Regions from separate parts of the Homo sapiens genome. Here all the other regions are linked to region 3. The links come from fine-mapping of genetic effects on gene expression. A gene starts in region 3. Each other region holds a variant in brackets. All regions are shown on one strand. Distances are from middle to middle. Region 1 overlaps GREB1 (growth regulating estrogen receptor binding 1). Region 2 overlaps GREB1 (growth regulating estrogen receptor binding 1). Region 3 holds the start of GREB1 (growth regulating estrogen receptor binding 1).

The links. PIP is the estimated chance that this variant, and not a neighbour inherited with it, causes the effect.
Region 1: its variant is fine-mapped to the expression of GREB1 in caudate (GTEx, PIP above 0.99). The same link has a PIP of 0.9 or more in amygdala, anterior cingulate cortex, cerebral cortex, hippocampus, prefrontal cortex and putamen.
Region 2: its variant is fine-mapped to the expression of GREB1 in memory regulatory T cells (Schmiedel 2018, PIP 0.95).

The regions. Positions count from the first base shown.
Region 1 is chr2:11,609,585-11,617,767 of GRCh38, forward strand. GREB1 (growth regulating estrogen receptor binding 1) reads left to right here. Exons shown (of 33, transcript NM_014668.4): 18 at 1,104-1,443; 19 at 2,911-3,026; 20 at 5,507-5,706; 21 at 7,047-7,136. Among named protein-coding and RNA genes, the nearest start is that of NTSR2, 57 kb to the right of the region's middle. RefSeq lists an enhancer at 6,641-7,141. The variant G/A (reference allele first, on the strand shown) is at 3,209.
Region 2 is chr2:11,550,451-11,558,633 of GRCh38, forward strand. GREB1 (growth regulating estrogen receptor binding 1) reads left to right here. Exons shown (of 33, transcript NM_014668.4): 2 at 6,004-6,321. The coding sequence starts at 6,165. It also overlaps the pseudogene TRG-CCC7-1. Among named protein-coding and RNA genes, the nearest start is that of MIR4429, 14 kb to the left of the region's middle. The variant A/G (reference allele first, on the strand shown) is at 3,675.
Region 3 is chr2:11,530,126-11,538,308 of GRCh38, forward strand. GREB1 (growth regulating estrogen receptor binding 1) reads left to right here and starts at 3,920. Exons shown (of 33, transcript NM_014668.4): 1 at 3,920-4,129. RefSeq lists an enhancer at 8,014-8,183.

The sequences.
Region 1 (8,183 bases), 79 kb after region 3:
GCCAGAGTCTGTGGACCAGTTATACCTTCCTAGACAGCCCTGGTAATGGCAAGCTTGCCAGGCCAGCTTCCAGCTTATGTGACCTGCGTAGTGGATGAAGTGCTGAAGGAAACATGAAGAAAAGGAGGAGGATGGTCAGGAAGAAGGAGCAGGGATGTCATCGCAATGTCAGAAATGCTATCAAGTGCTGTAGGAAGGCGAGCTGGCTGCCCTGATAGAACTCACAGGGTGGCATGGCCACGGTATGGTACTCATTTTTGTAGGTCGAGAAACTACCTTACCTTTGCTACAAAAAGCCAGAGTCAGGAGGACCCATTCCAGCTCAATCAACCCAGAAGAACATTGTGCATAAACTGGATACCAATTTATTTATTCACGTTGAGAAACACCATCATCTACAGGGACCTGGGCTTTTCCATTGGTGCCCTGGGGTCTGTGTGACTAACGGGTCAGAGCCACTCTAGGAGAGCAGGTGGTTGTGGGAGCAGCCACCACCTTTGTGTGGGGACACAGATAGTAACCACAGTTTCTGAAGCAAAAACTGGGATTCTTGATTTGGCTGGATATGTTCTGATTTGTAATTAGTCTGTCAAAATACGTTTAGTTATATTTCTAATAATTCACTGTGATCGAAGTGAACACAGAGATGGGCCTTTAGAACTCGGGCCTCCGGTAGCTGCATTTCCATATTGATTGCTGGTGGTTCTCCTGTTTCTAGTAGGAACCAGAGGCAACTTAGTCCCCTCCTCAGAGAGCTGCACATTGTGCTGATAGAGACAAAATAGGCATTTATACCATTTATTCATCTGCTCATTCATTGGACAAATATTTATTGAGCAGCTACTAAGTGCCAAATGCTGGAAAAACGTAATAACAACAAACCTATGTTTTTGTTTTCCAGCTGGAAAAAACAAAGGACTGTATAATTTGATTTCTAAAGAAGGCTTCTCATTCAGGTTCCCACAACCACCTTCCAGAGGCAACACAACTGCGTATAATGCCGGAGTTGCCTGTGGTAGAGTGACGGATGTCTTGGGTGACTTGGCAGCAGCAGGCCGGTGGGCGCGGCCGTCACAGACATGGTCTCTCTGTGTTCCTTGCAGGTTCCCCCGCCTGCACAGCGCGGTGATCAGGACCTTTGTTCTCGTGCAGCACTACGCGGCCGCCCTGATGGCCGTAAGCGGCCTCCCGCAGATGAAGAACTACACGTCGGTGGAGACGCTGGAGATCACGCAGAACCTCCTCAACTCCCCGAAGCAGTGCCCCTGCGGCCACGGGCTCATGGTCCTGCTGCGGGTGCCCTGTTCGCCCCTGGCGGTGGTGGCCTATGAGCGGCTGGCCCACGTGCGGGCCCGGCTGGCGCTGGAGGAGCACTTTGAGATCATCCTGGGCAGTCCCAGCTCAGGCGTCACCGTGGGGAAGCACTTCGTAAAGCAGCTCAGGGTAGGTGCTGTGCGCAGGGAGGGGCGGAGGGCCTGGGGGTACCTGGGAGAGCTGAGGGGCCCACCAGAGGCAGGGAGTGTCACGAACCCCACAGCGTGGCCAACGTGGCTTCCCTAGACCCAGCCACCCCTCAGCCTCCTCTCTGTGCTTCCCCACCTCTGCCCTCCGCCCCAGCAGCACCCCCACACCCCTGCAGCATTGCCTTATGACTTTAGACCTCTGGGCAACAGCCTGCTTTCTTTTTTCCTGGGCATCCATTTCCTCTCTTCTTTGTTTAGCTGATGCTTCTTTATTTTCCCCTTTGAGACAGGGTCTCACTCTGTGGCCCAGGCTGGAGTGCGGTGGCGTGATCACAGCTCACTGCAGCCTTGAGCTCCTGGGCTCCAGGGATCCTCCCACCTCAGGCTCCTGAGTAGCTGGAACCACCAGCGTGTGCCACCACACTCGGCTAATTTTTAAAATTTTTAAAATTTTCTCCATGTTGCCCCGGCTGATCTCAAACTCCTGAGTTCAAGCAACCCTCCTGCCTCAGCCTCCCAAAGTGCTGGGTTCCAGGTGTGAGCTGCCCTGCTTATTTTCTGCAGCACTTAGGTTGGTGTCTTTCCTCTTTCAGGAAGCCACCCTCCCCCTCTGCCATGCCCAGGGCAGTGCCATGCTCCCTGCCTGTCATCTAGCCCCTCTCCCAGATGGTGGGGGGCAATGGCCATCCCCACAGAACTCAGCCCCCAAAGCCTAGCACAGCGCCTGGCCCATAGTAGGTTCTCACTCAATCTGCAGGTGACAGAAAATGCAAAAGGTTTAGGGAAAGAACAAATGAGTGGAAAACAGGAATGAAAGGGAGGACACTGTCAGGAGAGAGCACAGGCAAGACATAAGGAACAGCTGGTTGGGCGCGGTGGCTTACACCTGTAATCCCAGCACTTTAGGAGGCCGAGGCGGGCGGATCACTTGAGGTCAGGAGTTCGAGATAAGCCTGGCCAGCATGGAGAAACCCTGTCTCTACTAAAAATACAACAATTAGCCAGATGGGGTGGCGTGCGCCTGTAGTCCCAGCTACTCGGGAGGCTGAGGCAGGAGAATCACTTGAACCCTGGTGGTGGAGGTTGCAGTGAGCTGAGATTGCGCCACTGCACTCCAGCCTGGGTGACTCAGCGAGACTCTGTCTCAAAAAAAAAAAAAAAAGACTTAAGGAGCAGCTGACAACATAGACTTCCTTTCACGGAGCTGGTCAGCTGATAGAGATGTCTTGGACATGCTCTGGCTGGCTAATCTCCATGTTCTAGCCGACTGAAAATACGGTGGCCAAGTGGATGGTGTGCTTATTTGCAGTCTAAAGAAATTTCCTTTTGGTCAGAAGATATAGTTCAAGGAGTTTAAATTGGTGTGGGAGGCCATCAGGATTCCTCTGAGCTGGGCTGGTTGGGAAGGGAGGCGTCTGTGGCTTTATTTCTTTTTCGTTATCTGCAGATGTGGCAGAAAATTGAGGATGTGGAGTGGAGACCCCAGACTTACTTGGAGCTGGAGGGTCTGCCTTGCATCCTGATCTTCAGTGGGATGGACCCGCATGGGGAGTCCTTGCCGAGGTGAGTGGAGGGGTTATGCCCCTGGGGGTCTCTGAGGAGCTGGCTGCCTGGGCCCCCTCAAGGAGCATGTCAGGGGGGCTGCTGTGCCCTGACGGTAGGCAGCACCACTCACATTCACAGGCCCCGTGGGTGGGGCCTTCATCGTGGCTTTCCCAGCATGGGCCTGAGTGCGTCTGAGGCCC[G/A]TGCCCCTTCTCCTGATTCTCAGAAAGGCGCTGTTTGGGCTCGTGGTGACGGCTGTTGCCAGGCTCTACGGGTGGAGGCTCTGCAGGTGGAGTCAGGATTTCATGCCTCCTGAGTTCAGTGTCTCCCCATGGGGCGCTCTGTGTGTGCTGGGGATGGCAGTTCTGCTTGGGACAGTACGGCATCCTCTCCAGGAGTTGCAGCCACAGTTCCTGCTGGTACCTAGGCTGCCGCAATGCCTGGGCCCTCCCGGCTTAGGAGGCGTTCTGGGAGTGGAGGCAACTGACGCTGCTCGGGAAGAGCTGGTTCTTCCAGCACAGAGTGGACTGTCTCAAAAGATGTGTCCCTCTGAATCCATCACAGCCTGGAAAGTCTTAGCCACATATCCACTCGATGTCCGCTGGTGTGGGGGGTCTCTAGGCCACCACACAGACATGCGGACACTCGAGACTCAGGTCCCTGGGCCTCCTGTAAGGCAGTTTCTTGGATTGGTAGTGACAGATTGGGTTTTAGAGACTTCATACCGGTGGAGAAGAGCAGACGGCCAGCAAAAGATAGCAAAAGCCGACATCAGTGGAATTCCTGTTATGTTCTGGGAACTGTCCTAGATTCTTCTTTTAGGTTTTATTTCATTTTACTCTCACCTTAATCCTGGGGGAAAGGTGCTATTTCAGTAGTCCCATTTTACGGATGAAGAAACTGAGGCTTACTGAGATTAAGCCAGTCTGGCCAGCAGTGGGCCTGGCTTCTTCCCCCAGGAGCACCCCACACTTCAGCAAACGGCCCTGTGCATGCTGCATACTCATGGGCCAGGGGAAGGGGGCTCCAGAACATTTGACCTTGCTTGTTGCTATTTCACATGGATTAATTCTTTTCTTCTTCAACTCCTTAAGGACTGAGACAATGTCTTAATCTATTTTAAATTTTAGCAAGCATTTGCTGAATACCAGGTACCTTCTGGTACCTTCTTTGTACCAGGCATCATGATAGACTTTTCATATGAAACTTACTCCTTGCTGCAGTAGTATTACCATCCTGTTTCATGGTTGAGTCAATGAACGATCATTTGCTTGAGGTCATGAGCAGTAAGTTTCAGAGCCCCACTGGAACCCTCACGTACCCCTCTCTAAGCCCTTTGCCTTGGTTGTGTTTCTGCTGCGCAAGTCTGAGCACGGGGTTGGCCTTTCCTCTGCTGCTCACAGATAGCATTGCTTGTTGGTGTCCGACTTGATTGCCATCATATTTCTAGCATCTAGTACCCTGGCCTGTGTTCACTTGGATTGAATAATTAAATGCTCACTGATTACATTTAATCTTTATCACAGCGGACTTAGATTTTTTTTTTTTTTTTTTTGAGACGGAGTCTCACTCTGTTGCCCAGGCTGGAGTGCAGTGGTGCAATCTCAACTCACTGCAGACTCCGCCTCCTGGGTTCAAGTGATTCTCCTGCCTCAGCCTCCCGAGGAGCTGGGATTATAGGCACCTGCCTCCACACCCGGCTAATTTTTGTATTTTTAGTAGAGATGGGGTTTTGCCATGTTGGTTAGGCTGGTCTTGAACTCCTGACCTCAAGTGATCGGCCCGCCTTCGCCTCTCAAAGTGCTGGGATTACAGGTGTGAGCCACCACGCCCAGCCAGATGGTTATTAATATTCATTCCCATCTTTCAGATGAAAAAATCAGAGCCTCAGAGAAGTTGTGCAGCTTGTCACGGCTTCTGTCGCTAGGAAGTAGCAGAGCTCAGGTTCAAGCCCCCCCTTTTTGTTGTTGTTGTTGTTGTTTGTTTTGTTTTGAGATGGAGTCTGGCTCTGTCGCCCCGGCTGGATTGCAGTGACACAATCTCGGCTCACGGCAAGCTCTGCCTCCCGGGTTCACTCCATTCTCCTGCCTCAGCCTCCCGAGTAGCTGGGACTACAGGCGCCCGCCACCACGCCTGGCTCATTTTTTGTATTTTTAGTAGAGACGGGGTTTCACCGTGTTAGCCAGGATGGTCTCGATCTCCTGACCTTGTGATCCGCCCGCCTCGGCCTCCCAAAGTGCTGCAAGCCCCTTTTTTATCTGACCCAAAAGTTAGTGCAGCACAGAGCTAAATGCATAGTGGGTGTCCCCAAAGATTTACTATTATACTGAATTTGTTGCTGCAAGCTCCCAGTAACACTGTTGGCTTTTCCACTTGTACGAGTCCTTGGGTCCTCACCAGGAAGGTGGGGTGTGGTCCCGATCAGTGCTGCCTGCCGCAGTGGGAACAGCACTCCACTTGTGGAAGGCACTAAACAGACACCTTCTTCTGTGTCTTGCTAGGTCTTTGAGGTACTGTGACCTGCGATTGATAAACTCCTCCTGCTTGGTGAGAACAGCCTTGGAGCAGGAGCTGGGCCTGGCTGCCTACTTTGTGAGCAACGAGGTTCCCTTGGAGAAGGGGGCTAGGAACGAGGCCTTGGAGAGTGATGCTGAGAAGCTGAGCAGCACAGACAACGAGGATGAGGAGCTGGGGACAGAAGGTGAGGGATGGCTGCCCTCAGCCTACTTGTCCCTGTCTGCATGTCTTTCTTGGCTTCTGAGCTTTGAGGCTGCCTGTGCTTATGGAGACAGCTGTCTCCAGTTCAGCAGGGTCCTGGGACCTGTCTGCTGGACAGCGGCTCTGGATGAGAGGTCTCCAGTGTTGGATGAAATGGCAGAGCTCTCACTGAATTCAGATTTTGTTTGTTTTCTCCCCATCTCTTTTGGTGGTGTGAGAAAATGGAAATCCCTATAGGTTTTTCCTAGTTCTAGAATTCTTAAAGAATAGGAAGAAAAATTAAGATTTCTTAGAGTTCAAGTTCAAAATTTCTTAGAGTTCCTCGTTCCACTCACTGGTGGAATTCCCACCTAGTGTGATTTGCTTGTTTATTTCCTCTGTGAATCAACCCAACAGCGTGCTGTCCATTTTTAAGAAGTGTGAAAACAGGCTCATTTGCAGACTCTTCAAATCTGATGCCGCCTTTTTAATAGGACACATAAATGATAACATCGCAAGGCATTGACTATAGTCAACAATGTGATGAGAAAGACGTAGACAGTCATTCAAAAACTAGAAAGCATTTGTGGAGTGTGTGGAATGGAAGGAGGTGGGTGTGGGCACCAGCGCGGGTCTGTGGTCTGCCTTGTCTGTCTTGACTGTGGGACCTCTCTTAGCCTCAGCTTGCTCGTCTGTAAAATGTAGATGGAAAGGCCTGCCCGCCTGTAGCCATCTTTTCGAAGCACGGCAGAGACTCTGATTTAATTCTTTCATTTGTGAGTATCTGCTGCACGTCTCCGTGCTCCCTGGCATCTCAGGACCCCCTTCTTTAGTTTCACCATCTGCTTCTCTCTACCCATAGCCCGCATTGCACTGAGCACTGGCCCACGTTAAACTTGCAGTGGCCGGGCTGTGCCCTGCCCTTCTGGCCTCTGCGCTGCACGGCTGCCCTTCCTGCTGCTCAGAGTTTTCCTTTCTCTACTTTACCTGCAAAACCCTGAGGCCCTTCAGGGCGACGGCCAGATGCCCCCCTCTTCCAGGAGATGCCCTGCTTTTCCCCCAGGCTCCCCGACCCCTCTCTCTTTGCATCTCCTCCACCAGCTTGCAGCTGTGCCTCATGGGCAGGAGCCTTCGCTGCACCCAGAGTGCCTCCCTGCACTGCAGCCCACTCCCTCCTGTCTCCTCAGTGCTCTGTCCATGGTGGGGGCCTGGAAGATGGCAGTGAATGAGTAAATGGATGGGGAGAGGTGATGCATGGGAACACACTTTACACACTGTGAAGTGCTGGGCAAATGTCAGGAATGGTGATTTCGGTGCATTCTCAGCGTGTGTGTTTTGGAACAGGCTCTACCTCGGAGAAGAGAAGCCCCATGAAAAGGGAGAGGTCCCGCTCCCACGACTCAGCATCCTCATCCCTCTCCTCCAAGGCTTCCGGTGAGTCTTCCCACACGGGAAGGACCAGACCAGCAGACTGATTTTTGAGGTTTCAGAGAATGAAAAGAAACCTATAGAGGGCTATTTGCTGATCCTTTATTTTCCATCAGAACTGGAAAGATAAGGAAATCTTTGAAGTGCTAGACTCTCTAGAGAGTAAATATTGTGGTCAACTTCGGATCGGAGAACTTGAAGACTGAGCAAGACTGTAGGGTTCTGCTGCCCCTGTGCTCAGGGGAGGACCGTGGACCCTGCCCCTCACTGTGGCTGGGGCCTCAGGCTGAGTCCTGGCCGTGTTAGGGGCGGGTCCCCGGGTGTTCTCCCTGCCGTTGTTGGTTTGGGAAAACCCTGTGCCCTGTGGGGAGAGGAGCTGAGCGCAAGGAGAGAAGTAGACATGGAGACTTCACTGGGGGAAGAGCAACAAAAGGCAACACAAGCTCATGAGCCTTCCGCGTAGCCACAGCCACAGCGGGTGGGCAGTGCCAACCACAGGCTCCACACGGTCTCTGCCCTAAGGGGTTCCTCTGTCTCCGAGAGTAGTCAGGATCCCGCAGAGGAGGGCAGAGCCCCTGGTGAGAAACAGAGGCCCCGGGCAAGTCAGGGGCCACCGTCGGCCATCAGCACGCACAGTCCCTGTCTTTCCGCCAAAAGCATTCTGAGGGCCTACTTGCTATCTGGATCAGCACTGAAGGATAAATGAGATGTAGACCTGACCTCAGGGAACGAACTCATTGTTCTCATAAAAGACGTGTTATTTTGCAGTAGTCTTTTGCACACATTTTCACTTCACATATGAAGAAGTCTGTAATTTTGTCCCAAGGCAGAGGGCAGATTTCAGGGTAGGTGAGGTTACCACAGGTTTGAGAGAGCAGCTGACCCTCAGTCGGGCCTTGCGGAAGGTGTTGCAAGTGCAGGAAGCCTTAAGGGCCGAGAGGCTCAGGGGCGAGACGTGCAGGGCCTGGGTGCGGGGACGGGTGTGTGCGGTGGCCGCAGGCTCCTGTTGTTGGGGCCGGGGGTGTGCCTAGCTGTGGCTGAGGGAGCGGCTGA
Region 2 (8,183 bases), 20 kb after region 3:
TTGCCAGCTATGTCCAAGAGTCCAGATTCTCTTTGGTTTAATTTGTCCTGAGTAAACTTCCAGACTTCTGCAGAGAAGGGGAAAGGGCTGCTCGGGAAGGGAGAGGGAGTCCTCCCACTCTTCAGCCCTACTTTTCACCTTGTTGCCTGGAATTCCCAAGCCTTCTCTGGGTTCTGTGCATTTGAATCAGTTTGCTCCTCAGGAGGCCTCACCCAGTTCAGGACTGGGCTTGGAAAGGACACTTTCCAAATCTAGCCCTACTTCTCGTCTGCTTTGAAAATGCTAACTTTTGTTGGCATATCTTGTCTGCCGTGATTTTCTCTCCTGTCTCTTTGTCTTTGGGTCCTTATACCTGCACATTCCTTCACTGTCCTTCTAGTGAGGTTTTGAAGGGACTAGAGACAATGCATGTTCTCCATCTGTCCCATTTCACCAGAAGCCTCCTCTCCTTTCTTTGTCCCCGCCTTTAATAGTTCCTTATCTTCCTTGAAGCTTCTGCCCTGCACTTATTCTAGTTGAACTTCAACTCAACCTAAAAATTCTCATTCTACCCGAGTCCTCTAAAGGACACAGATTTACTGGTACCATGGGAAGAGAATAGCTCAGGTCAATGTCCCAGCCACCTAGAGCATGTTGAGCTAGCTCACTGTTGCCACTTCAAACTGACCTGGGTCAGTTGGCTTCATCTGGTCAAGCCCATGGTGCTTCTGGGATCAGAAGGGCCAGTGGAAGTTAGGTACTGGTGCTGTGATTTGAGCTGACATGGAGCTATGTTTGAGGTTGATATGGTGAAACAAACCCACATCTGATCACCTCCCATGAAGCCCACCAGGCAACCAGTTGAATCTCCACGTAGAGAGTTTCCAAGCAACTTTTTGTGCCTCACTCTTAAAGATAAGCAGATATCAAAGGTCCTATTGAAAGAGTGTCTGCCCGGCCTCCTGCCTGCAGGTCTTCCCTCCAGTTTTATCCTAATCATTTCTGTCTGATTGACTGGCATTATCTTTACTATCATCGGTCTCTAGCTCTGCGGGTCCAGGGAGTGTCTGTCGCCTATACAATGTCTGATTTTCACCCTTGGGTTTGTTTTTGTTATTCTATCACTGTGTCATCTTGTAAACCATTTACTCTTAGGCAAATGAACTTACTTCTTTTTCTAGAGTATGTCTGTTCCCTTGGAGTTTTCGTGCCTTTGCACTCTCCTGTCCCTTCCTCAAATGCTGTTCTTAGTTTTTTTTCCAAAGACATCCTACTCAGTGGTCTAGTGGTTAGGATTCAGCGCTCCCACCGCCGCAGCCCGGGTTCGATTCCCGGTCATGGAACCAAGAAGTGGAGCAGGACGAGCCGTGGCCAAAAATATCCTACTCAGCCCTCCTGGCCTGCTTCCAGTACCAGCCCCATTGTAAACCAAGTTCTCACTGATTTCTCCCCTCTTTTAAGTTGTAGCACTTATGGACAATAGTGCTTTTTTGTCACTTGTCATTTATAATCTGAAATTCTTTTCCTGTGAATGCTCAGATTTAACTAGAAATTAATGATTACGCACTGACTATACTCCGTCTCTCTTACTGTCCGTAACGAGCAATCAGTTTTTCTAAGTGCCCATTTTACAGTTGAGAACACCAAGGCCCAGTGATTAAATCACTTTGCGTGGGGTTGCGCATGCTGTTTACAGACTAGTACAGCCAGGCTTTTGTGCATTAAGGTGAAGGCTGTTGTTCGGCCATCATCACTGCCCTGATGGGCACTGCTTCAGATTCTGTAGTTGAAGAGCATCACACACCAGCCTGGAGAGAAGCTGGTCCAGGCCTTGGAATGCAGGCGTTGGATGTGATGTGTTAGGGCGTGGAAGAAATCCCACAGGCAGTCTGCAGAGTTGAATAACTGCAGCAGGGATCTAGCAAAGAGACCACGGACAGAGAACGAGTGGTCAGGGCCAGCCCAGGGAAAGAAGGACCATCCCAAGGAGGCCTTTGATAGGTGTTGTCTCCACTCCATGCGGCATTTGGGAGGATTGAAGCTTTAGTGTGTGACCTTGAACTAGGCTCTTCCCTGTCTGGGTCTTTAGTTCTCCACTGGTCAAATGACGGATTCCAGTGGGTCAGAGAGCTCCAGATGTACCTCCGCGGCAGGACCGGTCTGGCCCAAACCTTCCTCACCCAGCAGGTGTGGCTTTGCAGTCAGGGTCTGTCTGTAAGATAGAGCACTGCCATGGTATCTAGAAAGTCCCCACACTGTTTGGTTGTGGCCACAATGGAATAACAAAAAGAGCCGCAGTTGGCCGGGCGCGGTGGCTCACGCCTGTAATCCCAGCACTTTGGGAGGCCGAGGCGGGCGGATCACGAGGTCAGGAGATCGAGACCATCCTGGCTAACACGGTGAAACCCCGTCTCTACTAAAAATACAAAAATTAGCCGGGCATGGTGGCGCACGCCTGTAGTCCCAGCTACACGGGAGGCTGAGGCAGGAGAATGGCGTGAACCCGGGAGGCGGAGCTTGCAGTGAGTCGAGATCGCGCCACTGCACTCCAGCCTGGGCGACAGAGCGAAACTCCGTCTCAAAAAAAAAAAAAAAAAGAGCCGCAGATTTGAATACTGTTGCAATGCCTCCTCATTCTTCTTTAGTGGTATGTACTTATTGTTCTGATGTCAAATGCGTCATTTGGGATAGGGAGTGGTATTTATTTTTTCTTTCACTATTTGCTTACAGACATTAAAACTTTGATGTTTGTTTAGGGCTATAAAATAAAGTTTTAATTTTGTGAGTATGAAAACTTTACTGGGCGGGCATGGTGGCTCATGCCTGTGGTCTCAGCACTTTGGGAGCTCTCTTGAGCCCAGGAGTTCGAGACCAGCCTGGGCAACATGGTGAAACCCCGTCTCTACAAAGAATGTGAAAATTAGCTTGGCATGGTGGTATGTTCCTGTAGTGCCAGCCACTTGGGGAGGCTGAGGTGGGAGGATCAGAGGTTGCAGAATCGAGATCATGCCACTGCACTCACTCCAGCCTGGGCAACAAAGTGAGATCCTGTCTCAAAAAACAAACAAACAAAAAACCCCACTTTTCTATGCTGTCTTGTTTTTAGCTTCTCTGTCTCTTTCTCCATCTTTCCCCCATTCTATTTTTTTTTTTTCAGCAAGCGTTTCTGCCGGCTATGTATCTCTAGATTCAAATGTATCATTTATAAAATGGGCTTCATCATACCTCTTCCATGGGCTACCATGTGTGTGAAGTAGGGAGTGTGCCCAGTGTCTTGCACGCAGTGGCTGGACAGTGGATATTATTTTTCCTTCTTCATTTTTATTGCCCCGTCTACATCAGGCCTACATGTCCCTTCGCTGCTGGAGTCTCCTGGGTGCCAATCAGCTGTGAGGTCAGCTGAACAGGACCTTGGGCAGGGAGGGTCTGGATGCCCCGATGTGTTCTTTCTGTCAGAGGACATGATTCTTCAGGGGCTCCATGTAAAACGAGTCCACCTTAAAGCTTCTTCCTGTGTGCCTTAAGCTCTATAGACAAAGATGCTATGGAAACAGAGGGCATTTGGGATGTTATTCGTTGGTGGCAGCTTTAAACACACCACCCTGAGTTGAGAATAATGCAGGTGTCCCCAAATGTGGCTGGCAACCCCTCAGTCACATATTAAAGTCTGCCACAGATCGAGAAAAAAGGCAGAC[A/G]AGAGGACCCTGCAACCTCTTCTGCTCTCCTGTTAGGTTACTCCGGCTGCTGACCTCTCTCTTTCAGGAGCACTTTCTTTTTGTTGGGGCTAATTCCTGAAGCAATCTTCCCACAGCTCATTTCCCCAGGCTATAAGCAGAGGCTGACCAAGGGGCCCTGTGGTCAGAAGTTATTGCCACAAGCAGGAAGTGGTTAATGCCTTCCATTTACTTTTAGTTGGAAGAGGAAAGGCTGAATCTTTCTTACAATAGGGGCGGGAAATCAACGTGACTCTACCAGTTATTATACCTTCGGGAGGGAAAGCAGAACTCTTTCAGGGCATGAAGGATGACATCTTGAAGCTACTCTGCCACCAACAGAACAAGGACGAGGGGAATTTATTACACATGGCTTGAGTTAGAGTGAATGGGAGATCTCGCTTGACCGATGAAGCCAGTTTCATAACTGGTCTGTGTGCAGTAATTGTAGATGAAGGCAGGAAACTGCTATTCTGTGGTCATTTCAGTGCAGGCATCTGGTGCCATTTTGTATGTCAAATGTTACTTTAAAGATGAACAGGCTAGTAGACAAGAGACATACAAGGATATAGAACAGTTGAATAATCTGATTGATTTCCTTTCATCCCTTGTAGAGTTTACGAATGTCTTTTCTCATATCTGTAAAACTCCAGCAGGTATATGTCAAAAAGAAACCCTTAACAAGTTTCAAAAGTAGAGTTTCTAAAGACCACAGTCTTGATTATAATCTATTAAAAACTGGAAATAAATAATATGAAGCTGAAGTCACCCCCCATTGCTGTCTTGACTGTTTAAAAATTAAACACACACTCCTGTATAATTAACGGATCAAAGAGGGAATCAGAGGGAAATGATAAACTGTCTAGAAAGAAATGAAAAGGAGAACACTTCATACTAAACCTTGTACCATAGCAAAGGAGGTGCCCAGAGAATAACGTATAGCCTTAAATGTCTTCGTTGTTAATGAAGATGAAAACTAAAGATGACAATAAAGTAACTATTTTGAAAAGTTTGGAAAAAGTACAAGTTAAACCAAAGGGAAATAAAGAGAAATATAACAAATAGCTAAATGTAATGAAATAGAAAATAAATGGAAAACATTATGGACATATACACATTTAAATGCCTGTTCTTGGGAAGGACTGAAAATAGAAATTTAACCCTATGTATGATCAGGGAGAAATGTCAGAACAAATATCAGCATTTTCACTCAATGGAAGCAGCCATTAAAATTGTTCTAAAAACATTTGCAAGAGGGTTGAGCGAAATGCTTATGTCAAGGAAAAACAAAAACAATAAAAATGTGTATTATAGTATGATTATAATTATGTGAATACAATCTCCCATCCCTTCCCATCTGCAAGTTCTGAAGAGAATTAAGTCTAAAACAATACATCAAAATACGTGAGTGGGAATGAAGTATTGATTCATGCTAAACAGATGAATCTTGGAGACATTGTGCTAACGTTAGATAGAAGCCAGTCACAAAAGACCTCGTACTGAATGATTCCATTTATACAAAGTATCCAGAATGAGCAAATCTATAGAGACAGAAAATAAATTAATTGTTGCCTCCAGCTGGAGGGGTTGGAGGGTTGCAGAGTGATAGGTCTGGGGTTTCCTCTTGGGGTGATGAAAGCATTCTAAAATTGATCGTATGATAGTTACACGACACTGTGAATATACGAAAAACCATTGAGTTGTCTACTTTAAGTGGTAAGGTATGTGAATTATATCTCAATTAAGTTGCTACAGAAAAAAAGTCACAGTGGTTCTCTGTGATTTTTGGGGGGATAGAAAATAAATCTCTTGGGGGATAGAAATGTCAGTGATTTTCCTCGTTTTCCCACTCCTCTGTGATTTCCAGGTTTTCCAGATATAATTCTGTATTACTTGAATCATGGAAACATTTAGTAGATTAAAAAACATTTTAAAGGAAGAATGAGAATAATCAGCCTTTTACCAGCAAAGACAATGGTGGGAGACCTGCTAGCCTATCTTCTGGGAAGGTGGGGGAGGCCGGCTCCTCTAATCCTCAAATCTGGGACTGGTTTTGGTGGATCGCTCATTTGCCGTCACTTACAAGAGTGTTGGAGGGCCATTCGTCTGCAGGTCATGGAAAATGAAACGTCATTCGTCTGGGAACTCTCAGGGGCAGGACCACATCTCTGGGAAAAGTGGGAGTCCTGTGAAACCTGGGGATGGCAAAAGAGGCAGCTCCTAGTGAAACAGTCTAAGAGGTGTCAGGCTCTGCTGAGTGCTAAATTAGAGAAAGCTGTTACTTATATAACTTCCTGTAATTGCCCGGCAGTAGCTGCAGCTGAGGACAGCCACCCTTTCTTCGTCTCTGCTGAGCGAAGGCTACACGGCCCTTCCTCCTTGCAGCTGTTTCACCTTCTACCTTGCGTGGAGCCAGGCTTTTGCACCGAATCTGAGATGCCATTTTAAACAGAAGACTCCATCCTCTTGAAGATGGGAAATTCTTACGCTGGACAGCTGAAGACGACACGCTTTGAAGAGGTCTTGCACAATTCCATCGAGGCATCCCTGCGGTCCAACAACCTGGTGCCCAGGCCCATCTTTTCCCAGCTGTACCTGGAAGCTGAGCAGCAGCTTGCCGCTCTAGAAGGTGGGAGACGCACGTTGCTTTTATCTGTGTATTTCTTTTATTGTGCGCAGTTAATGTTAGCACCAGAACTTGAAACTCTTTTCTTTATGTAGATAACGTTGAATCTAGCAGAAAAGAATTATTAGAAAAAGAAAACTGGGTACAAGTTCTTACTTTGGCTAAAATGTAAATAAGTTTCAGCCATAAAATTGCAAGAAGTAAAATTATTCATTGAATCAGTAGGAGAAAGGAAGAGGACAAATTGTTCTCAATCGGTTGTTACTTATGCTCTTATTAGAAGGTTTGACATTTTCACTTGGAAAAGCAAGGAATTTTAACATGCTTTTGACCCTCAGCAATATATTCCTTTTCTTTGTCCTGTGATTTGTGGCTATATCTTTGCAAAGTAATAGTAGGTATGAGAACTCTCAGAAACTTTTAAAAACCAAAAGCAAACATTATAAATTTAATATATGCCAAGAATAAACAACTAAATTCTCTTCGGGCATAGGGATGACTTTTTAGAGTTTATTTAATTATGCAGAGATTGAAATGATTGTTTTTTATAGCTGTGTGTTTTCATTTCAGAAGTAACCCCTCAGTGATCCATAGTATGAGATAGCTCTGTTATGGAAGTTCTTTTTGTAAGTTGATGTCTTTGACTTGAAGTTACCCGCAGACTTCTCTTAGTTATTGAAGTGAAAAGGGGCTATACTTTAAAACAAAAATTAATAAACTAGAATTAACGAAGAAAGCACTGAGTGAGCCAGGTCTTGTGCTGGGGTGGTCTTGCTGTGCGTGAGTGTGTATGTGGAAGGGGATGGTTGGGTTGGAGAGAATTGCACCTAGAGAAGAACGAGGTGTGGAGGTGCTTGTCTTCAAGGGGCCCCACACTGAGCTTGTGTGAGATCTGATAGTTGCTTATTCTAGCAGGAGGCATTTCTGTGTCATTGTTTAAAACATCCTTACTAAATTAACCTTGCAAATGGCCCTTCTAAACCCCTGGAAGAACTGGATGTGGGTCTGAGAGAAACTAGACTGTGGTCAAAACCATGCATTAGGAAAACCAAGAATTCGCTGGCATTCACATCAAAAGCACTGATGTTTTCTGGCATGGGAGACGTCACTGTGATTTTATGGGGAGCCGAGAAATGGCTGGAAAGTATTTTATGGACTGTTTTTGGCCAGTTGAAAGACTTTGGTGGAATATGAATTACCTGGTCATCCTCTACATCTATAGTATTGAAGAGCTTTGTGGCTAATTATGGATTAATAATAGTGATATTGATGGTAATGTTTATTTGAATGATACCTTAAAATCCACAAAGTGCTTTCACCTCACAAGCTGAAGTAATTGAATTCTGTGATTTGGGAAGATGGAAGGGTGGCTTGCTGGAAGCTTGAGTGACTGAGCAGCAGTTGCATACTCAGCTTTGGCCAAGCTCTGAGATAAAAAGGGGACAGACAAGGGCTTGAGTAGACTCAGGGCTGCCCACAGCGGGAGAGAGGAGTAGAAAGCCCTTTGAGGATTCCAAATTAGCTTTCCCTCCTGTTGAAAGATCTTGATAGTTGCTTTCTGCCCACCTTTAACTGGGAGGCTGTGTCTGACATTCCGACAGCTCAGGGTGCCCTTATCTGCTGTTGGACATGTGGCACTGTCCAGGGACAGCGCTGAGGCTTAAGCCTTCATTCCTCCGGTGCTGCGGTTGAAGGTTCCCTGCCAGCTGTCAGCCGGCTTGTCCAGCTCCACGTTGGTATGAAAACTGGAACAAGCCCTATGATTTTCCCATTTGTCCGACAAACAGAAGAGAGAAGTCCTCTGAGAGTTTGGTTTTCTAGTGCAGGAAAACAAGGGGGCTGATGGGGCTGGTGGGAAGAGACAG
Region 3 (8,183 bases):
ATCTTGGCTCACTGCAATCTCAACCTCCTGGGCTCAAACTATTCTCCCACCTCAGCCTCCCTAGTAGCTGGGACTACAGGTGCAAGCCACCACACCCAGCTAATTTTTGCACTTTTTGTAGAGATGGGGTTTCACCAGGTTGCCCAGGCTGGTCTCCAACTCCTGGCCTCAAGTGATCCACCCACTTTGGCCTCCCAAAGTGTTGGGATTACAGGTGTGATCCAGTGCGCCCGGCCCTAGGTGATTCTTATGCACACTAAAGTTGATCTTTGCCAAATAGGAAAAAAAAAAAAAGTAAAATCTATGTTAAAATTTAGGTTAAAAGTTAAGTTACCAGGAGGCTGAGGCAGGGGAATCGCTTGAACCGGGAGGCGGAGGTTGCAGTGAGCTGAGATTGCACCACTGCTCTCCAGCCTGAGGACAGAGCGAGACTCGGTCTCAAAAAAAAAAAAAAAAAAAAATTAAGTTACAATTAAATCCATCATGTTGTTAAAATCATGAAGAGCAAGGGAAAAATAAACATAAAATTCAGGATGTGAGTTAATGGGGGGCAGGGATGGAGGACAAGAAGGGGACTTCAAAGACGATGATGAAGTGCACCTTCACCAGAACCTGCATGTGGTGCATGGTGTTCATCATATCATGAGTCTGTGCAACATACATACCAATATTCTTTTGTATCTACTTAAGTTTAATACACACAATTTTTAAAAAGGGGTTAGAGTGAGGGTTGGCCAATGTGGGAAGGCTGTGTGGGGGAAATAGGATCTGAGGCTGGCCAGGAAGGGTGGGGAAGTTTGGTGTTTGCGGAGCAGACACCGGCTCTCTCTGGCCAGAGAAGCCCTTTGTACAAGGCTGCCCATCCCAGTCCATAACTCCATTAACCCCCCCAAAACTAGCCTAGTGCCAGGGAGAAAGAGTTCCCTAGGTAGGTGGGCCTGTTTGGAGGGTGTGGGCAGGTGCCCTGGCTGCTTCCTGAGTGGCCTCAGGCCCTGTACTGGAGGTCAGCTCAGTCAGTGTCACCCAGGCCTGGGGATATTTGCTTCTATTTAGCTCCCAGTAGGTTCCCAGTTTACTGTGGGAGTGTAGTTGCTTGACGCATACAAGCAGATGTTGAGCTAGAGCCTAGGCTGCCAAGGAGCTGGTTTAGTTCAGACCACTAATTGTATAGAGGTTAAGTGACTTGCCTGCTGGAGATAGGCAGAGCCAGGTTGGTGCGACTCCAGCATTTGGTTCCTTTCATCTGTTCCACGTTGTGCAGCCTACAGAGAGATTCAAGCTTGACGGAATTTCATGATTATAATTTACCCCAAAAAAGCTGTTTATAAAAAATGCATGTGATCATTTGTAAAAAATTTAGAAAATACAGATGATTAGAAACAAGAAAAAAAAATTGCGTATAATTCTTGCTTTTATTTTATTTTTAAACATTTAATTAATTAATTAATTATTATTATTATTTTGAGATAGAGTCTTGCTCTGTCATCCAGGCTGGAGTACAGTGGCACCATCTTGGCTCACTGCAACCTTGGCATCTCGGGTTCAAGCGATTCTCCTGCATCAGCCTCCCAAGTAGCTGGGATTATAGGCACCTGCCACCATGACCAGCTAATTTTTGTATTTTTAGTAGGGACAGGGTTTCGCCCTGTTGGCCGGGCTGGTCTTGATCTCCTGACCTGAAGTGATCCACCCGTCTCGGCCTCCCAAAGTGCTGGGATTACCGCATGAACCACCGCACCTCGCCTAATTCTTGTTTTAAAATACCCACTGTTAACATTTTAGTGTATTTCCTCCCAGTCTTTTTTCTATGCATTTAAGAAAATTACAATTAGATTAGGTGTTAAAGATGTGAATGATACCGCTTTCTCTCTTTATATATACTTTTCTCTGCTTTCTACTATTGTTTCGTACTTTCTGTCATTTGAATATGCCATATTAAATATGTTGAAATTATCTTTGCTAAGGAGTCAACATTAGCAAGAATAAAGTGGGAAATGTTCATTTATTCCTGAAGAGTTTAGCAAAGATCATATATTCGAGTCATTAATTCTTGCTTCTTAACTGCTTGAAAATCAACCCGCGTATAGGAGCCCTTCATCAGTCAACACTCTCATGGCACTTATTTCTGGTAGGGGCCGGGAAACAGATGGGAAAGACAACTTCCTAGGAGCTCTGGTCTTGGAGCGAGGGAGGTTCATGAAAATTATACCTATGTTCAATTGTGGCCAATAAAATAAAGAAAATCAAGTGTGAATGGTTTCCTTGATCAGGGCTTGCTTCTGAAGGGCAGAGCTGATAACGTCCTCACTTTGAGCAAAAGCCACAAAGTAGTTATCTTTCCTTACGCCTTTAGTTTTTGTTTAAAGGTTCATTACGAACTTTAGCAGTGAAAAAAAGTGTGGCAACTGGGTCATTCTGACCTAGAAGCAACCAAAATACTTCTGATTGCCGCAGCAGACAATGATGAATCATACCTAAACAAGTTTGCTGCCTTTTCATTTCTGTGGGTCGTAATCAGACTCATTGTTTTGTAGCCAGTGAGACATTTGCAGCAGCATGTTTGGGTCTGTGGGAGGAGGGAGGCTTGCAGATCTTCCCAGCGATGTGTGTGCTTGTCCCCACTAGCGCAGTGGAAACAGTGTTCTTGTTATCCAGGTTTAAGCCCTGTTAGGGATATGGCTTGTCCATTGTCATCGTGATGATACTGCTTAAAGATATCCTTTGTTGAGCACCTGCCATATGGCAGACGGTGTAAAAGGTGCTTTACGGTCCTGGTGTCATGGAAAGCCTTCCAACAACCTTATGATAGAGGTATTATTATCTTCATTTTGCCAAGAAAACTGAGGCTCTGGGAAGTTAAGTCAGTCACATAGCCAGTAGATACCAGGCACCCATAAATGTTTGTTGAGTGAATGAATAAATGAAGGAATGAATGGCAACTCCAAACTAATGGGAGAGAAATGCAAGAAGAGAGAGACTGATCAACATGAGACAAAAAACTTGGTGCTACAAGTTAAGAGGTTTTGCACATCCCAATTATTCATTTTTGCAATTTTTAAGCTCCACTTTCAAATAGAGACGGGGATTGGGATGGGATTTCAATGCAGGCGAATAACACAAGACAGATGGAGGAATATGTTTATGATCAGCAAAGAGATCACTCATCTTGAAAAAAACAGATAAATGGGAAAACACTGAAGTGCCAGCCACAGTACTAAATACTCTACTACATTATCTCATTTAATCCTCACAAAGTCAGCTTTGAAGTCAGCACTGTTATCTCTGTTTATGGCTGAGGAAACTGGAGCTCAGGGAGTGAGGGAGGCTGTCCAAGGTCACACAGCTCCGGTGGGTGAGGGGGCAGGGACTGGACCCAGGCACACCCAGCTCCACAGCGTCCCTGAGACTCTGTAAACAGAAGCCGGGAACAACAATTTCATTATTTATGCTTGAATTTAATTTTGTGTTTGATGGAGGAAAAAATGGATGATACACAGATTGCTACCAACAAAACCCAACAATTGGTTCTTTGAGATTCTAGCTTAGTGCAGGGAGAAAGGCAAGCCGGTGATGAACGTTTTGGGGTAGCCAGAAACAATGAACTAGGGGTGACTGGTGTGAAATTCAGTTGTGTGGACCATATTTTCTAAACTAGAATCTGCACACCATGCTCTCCCGCCATGTTCTCCCCTAGGAGAAAATTGTAGCTTGCAGGCAGAAATGTAAACACATAATCAATTCTACTATAACTTGATATATGTGTTCCTAAAAATTATTGCACCATGCAAGATTGGGCAATAAAAACCGCAGGGTTTATGACGAATACAGGCTTAGGGCAACAGCTCTCAAAAACTTCATCAATGACACATTTTTTAAAAAGATAAAAACCTAATAAAAAGGGCAGCACCGTTTTACACATGCTAAATGGTTAAGAGATACATAAATACTGCAGTAGAGATGGGATTTTACCTCAAAGTGCAAAGGTAAATGAAATAAAGTTTTTTCAATGGAAGGCTTGCAGCTCTTGAGGACCTGCCAAATGGAAGAAGGACAGAGACCTGGAGCCCTATGGAAAGTTCTGACACCATGTGTGGAAGGACATGGCTTTTAACACGTGTGGTGACTGGAGGTAGGTGGTAGGTGCTTGAGGCTGGTGTGTGTGCGCCTTTTGTATATTCTCAAGCAGCTGGGGTCAGTTGGGCACCATTTTTCTGAACTTACTTTTGTGTTTCTTGCAGAGGAAATCACCAGGCACACACAAAACCCACAAGGTATTCAAATTGTTCTGTAATATGTCAATCTGTCCGTACAAATTTGCAGTTTCAAAACAAGCGTTATAGCTGAACTGACTGTATGTGGGAACATCACTGCAACTCTTGCTGACCCTGTGTGCTGAAGTGGGGAGCGTGCGGCTTTCATACCCCCAGCCTTTCTGCACAGCTCTTCAGTTTACCTGGGGGCCCCTCAGCAGTAAAGCCAGATCAACAGGCTCACCCGTGAGAGCTCCTCTTGTGTGATTGTTGAGTGGCTCAGTGATTGGGTTGGTTGGGAAACAGAGTGTGGCCCTCAGTCTTCCTGAGGATGGTAATTAGAGGGGGATGTGTGCTTCTTCTTCACATATACCTGGTTGTTCTCTGATTGCTTTGGTGTCTTTTCTTCTGTTTCTTCTCCTGGATGTTGTTTTCATGTTTCCTTCCTTAAGTGCTACATGACCCTTGGATTTTCATGTGTGTTTAAGAGTGAGGCAGAGAAGGTTGACTGGGAGTGTTGTGTCCACAGGGGGCGCTGGTGTCTGGCAGGTGTCACTTTTGGGGTGCTCAGGACAGAATCAGCTGGCATTCTGGAGGCCTCTGAATGCCAGACTGTGCGTTAGCGGCTCTAGTTCTTGTTGGTTGATTCAATTTGTATCAGAAGAGCTTTCGGTATTTTTTGCCTGGGGTGAACGCCTGGCTCCTGGGAGATCTGCATGTGGCCCTGGGGTGGGAGGTAGAGGAGCTACCTGCTCTGTAGACAGGATTTCACAGAAGACCCCTGGTCCCAGCGCTGCTGTGCACTCCTCCCAACACTTGTCTGGCGTATCTGAGTCTCTGCATTTCCTCAGGGCCAGTTGGTCCCCCCAGGTATGCACCCTTCTCCTGTGTCAGCTCCACATTCCCTCTCTAGTCTGGCTTCTGGAAGTTTATGAAACCTGAACCTCTAGTTAGCTAATGGCATCCCTTCCATCTTTTCATCACTGTGGCTTAAAATACCTCACCCCACTTATTTATTTATTTATTTATTTATTTTTAATTCAGTATCTTTTGAAGGTCATCTCAGGAAGGGCCAGGTACCATGTTGAATTAGAAGTTAATTCTCATACCATAATCTAAATGTCTGTTTCCATTAAACAGCATTTTTACAAGGAAAGGACTTTACTCTTCGAGTTTCCAGTGCCTGGCACACAGGATGACACTTAAAAAATAATAATAAATAAATAATAGAGAAATAAGGTGTGTGTTGATTGAAATACATTGATTGAGTTCTTTGGTTACTTCTAGGTCTGAGAGTCTAGGATTCGGTGATTCAAGGGGAGAGGCTGAGGAAAGTCTTTAACTAGATGGGAAGGCTTGGGTCCTTGGGTTTTCACGAGTATAGAAAAAGGTTGCATTAGCCCCACTTACATGATTTGTTTTATCTTCCCCACTTCCTGACCGTGCCCACTAAATCTCTGAAATCTCTGGGCTGTCTACATTTTGCCTGGATATGGATGTCGGAATTGTTCATCTTCTTTCTTCTTGCTGCCCTGAACTCTTTTTTTTTTCCCTGTAAAATGCAAACACTACCTTGTAAATAAACTCTTATCAGATACCTTCTATTTCCTAGGCACTGTGATTGGCCAAGGGCGTACATCTGCATGTTCTCTGCTCTCCTGGGGATCCCAGGCAGCAGGGGAGAGAGGGAAGCACACAGATTAACCATGGTCCTGGGAGACCACCGCAAGCCTGGAGCATACACAGGAGTGGTGGGGACACAAAGAGAATGCCCAGCTCAGTTTCGGGAGGTCAGAACCACCACACAATTGAAGAGATGCTTGAACTGGGTCTTGAGGGATGAGGCAGCGGGAACACAGCATGTGCAGAGTCGGAGGTGTGACAGGATACGGAGGCACTGCTTGTGCCCCAGGCAGTCAGCAACCAGGCAGTGCCAGCAGCACCAACCCCGCATGATTTGTCCCAGTAAAGCTTTGTCTTCTCTAGTGATCTGGAAACCTCTCAGGGAAACATTTTGTAAAAGCCAAGCCATATTTATTTATTAATGGTGGTTATATAGTTTCTAGAGCATTTTGTTGGATAGGTAGAGACTTTTCTGCTTTTTGAAAGTTATCACTCCTAGCCATTGTGGCCAAAAAGAGAAAAATGCCAAAAAGTGCCAAACTGTGGCTATGATTGTCATGTTTAATGTGGAGAGGATTTGGCCAGGGGTAGAAGAGCATTATGTATAGAATAGAACAAAGAGATTTATGGCAAGAAGAGATACTGGCATTAAGCAAAGAATTGCAGATTTAAACTGAGAAGAGAGCCGCACAGCAGATGGAGTTAACACTGGAGGTGAGCTCTCTCCTCTTTAGGTACCTCATTGCTATTTTCACATCAAAAGCCTATTTTTGACAGTAATTAGAAAGCATAGTGGGTTCAAAGTCATTGCAATTCACACCTAATGAAGGCAAACTTTGCTAATTTTCTCCTCATAATAGTAAGTTACATCAATTTTAAAAGTTAGCAATTTACAGCACAGTTGAAAGAAGCATGTTTTAAAAAACCTTGAATTCTTAGAGGCAAGTACCATAGATATTTTCTTTTTTTTTATTTTTCTTTGAGATGGAGTTTCACTCTTGTCGCCCAGGCTGGAGTGCAGTGTTGGAATTGTGGCTCATTGCAACCTCCTCCTCCTGGGTTCAAGAGATTCTCCTGCCTCATCCTCCCAAGTAACTGAGATTACAGGCACCCGCCACCGCGCCTGGCTGATTTTTGCATTTTTTAGTAGACATGGGGTTTCACCATGTTGGCTAGGCTGGGATTGAACTCCTGACCACAGGTGATTTGCCTGCCTTGGCTTCCCAAAGTCCTGGGATAACAGTCGTGAGCCACCGCGCCGGCCGACATTTTCTTTCAGTCCCTTTTACACATTTAATTTATTTATTCACAGGTGGCAAGCTTCATATTGGTAAGAATTGTTACTATTATCCTGGCATGTATAATATTATATATGTGCCAGGTACCATGCTAAGCACCCTATACATACTAATTATTAAATCCACACAACTCTAAGAAGCAAGTACTTTTCTCCCATTTTTCAGTTGGGGAAACTGAGGCACATAAAGGTTAAGTAACTTGCTCAAGGTCTAATATCCAGTAAGTGAAGATTCAAACCCAAACCTGGCTCCAGAGCCCATCATCTTAAAAACTCTACTGCTTAAACTCTCTTCCCTTCTCTAAAAATATAATAAATAGTATATACTATTTTAACATGTTATAAGTTTATATATTATATAAAAATATAAAAATATTTTATATATTATATATTACATAAATATCATATATTAGATAAATATATGATATTTATATAATATATAATAATATATAAATTTTATATATTTATAAATAAAATATACTATTTTAACATAAAATACATACATGTATTTTAATATATATGATCTCATATATAAGAATTTAAAATTATCCGCAGGATCTACCTATCTTTCTATACAGTAAATGTATCTTGCTGAATGTTGTATCCTAAGTGTGTCTGCATCATTGACAAACTCTTCATGCACATAGCTTTTATGCATTTATTGCAGGCTGTGTTAAGTATGCATTTTTTGCTGGGTATTTTGTTAGTTTCCAGTTTCCCACCGTCACACACGGTGCCCTGAGTGGCAGAAGGCACGGGGCACTCCACGTACAGACCGCGTACAGTGTGCCTCCCCAACGAGTAAAGCCCTGGCACTAGGGATGCTTCAGAGCTGCAGATGCTCGCTCGGGCAGAACCTCCAGCGGGTGCCACCCCTGCCTGGCGATGAAGGTGCAGGGATGGGTGGGGTCTCCACTGCCCTTTCTAGGGAGGCACTGCCCAGCCTGGGAACGAAGAAGCCCACCACACAAGTTCTACCCTTTAGCGCCTGGCAATTTTGGGGACTGAGCCCA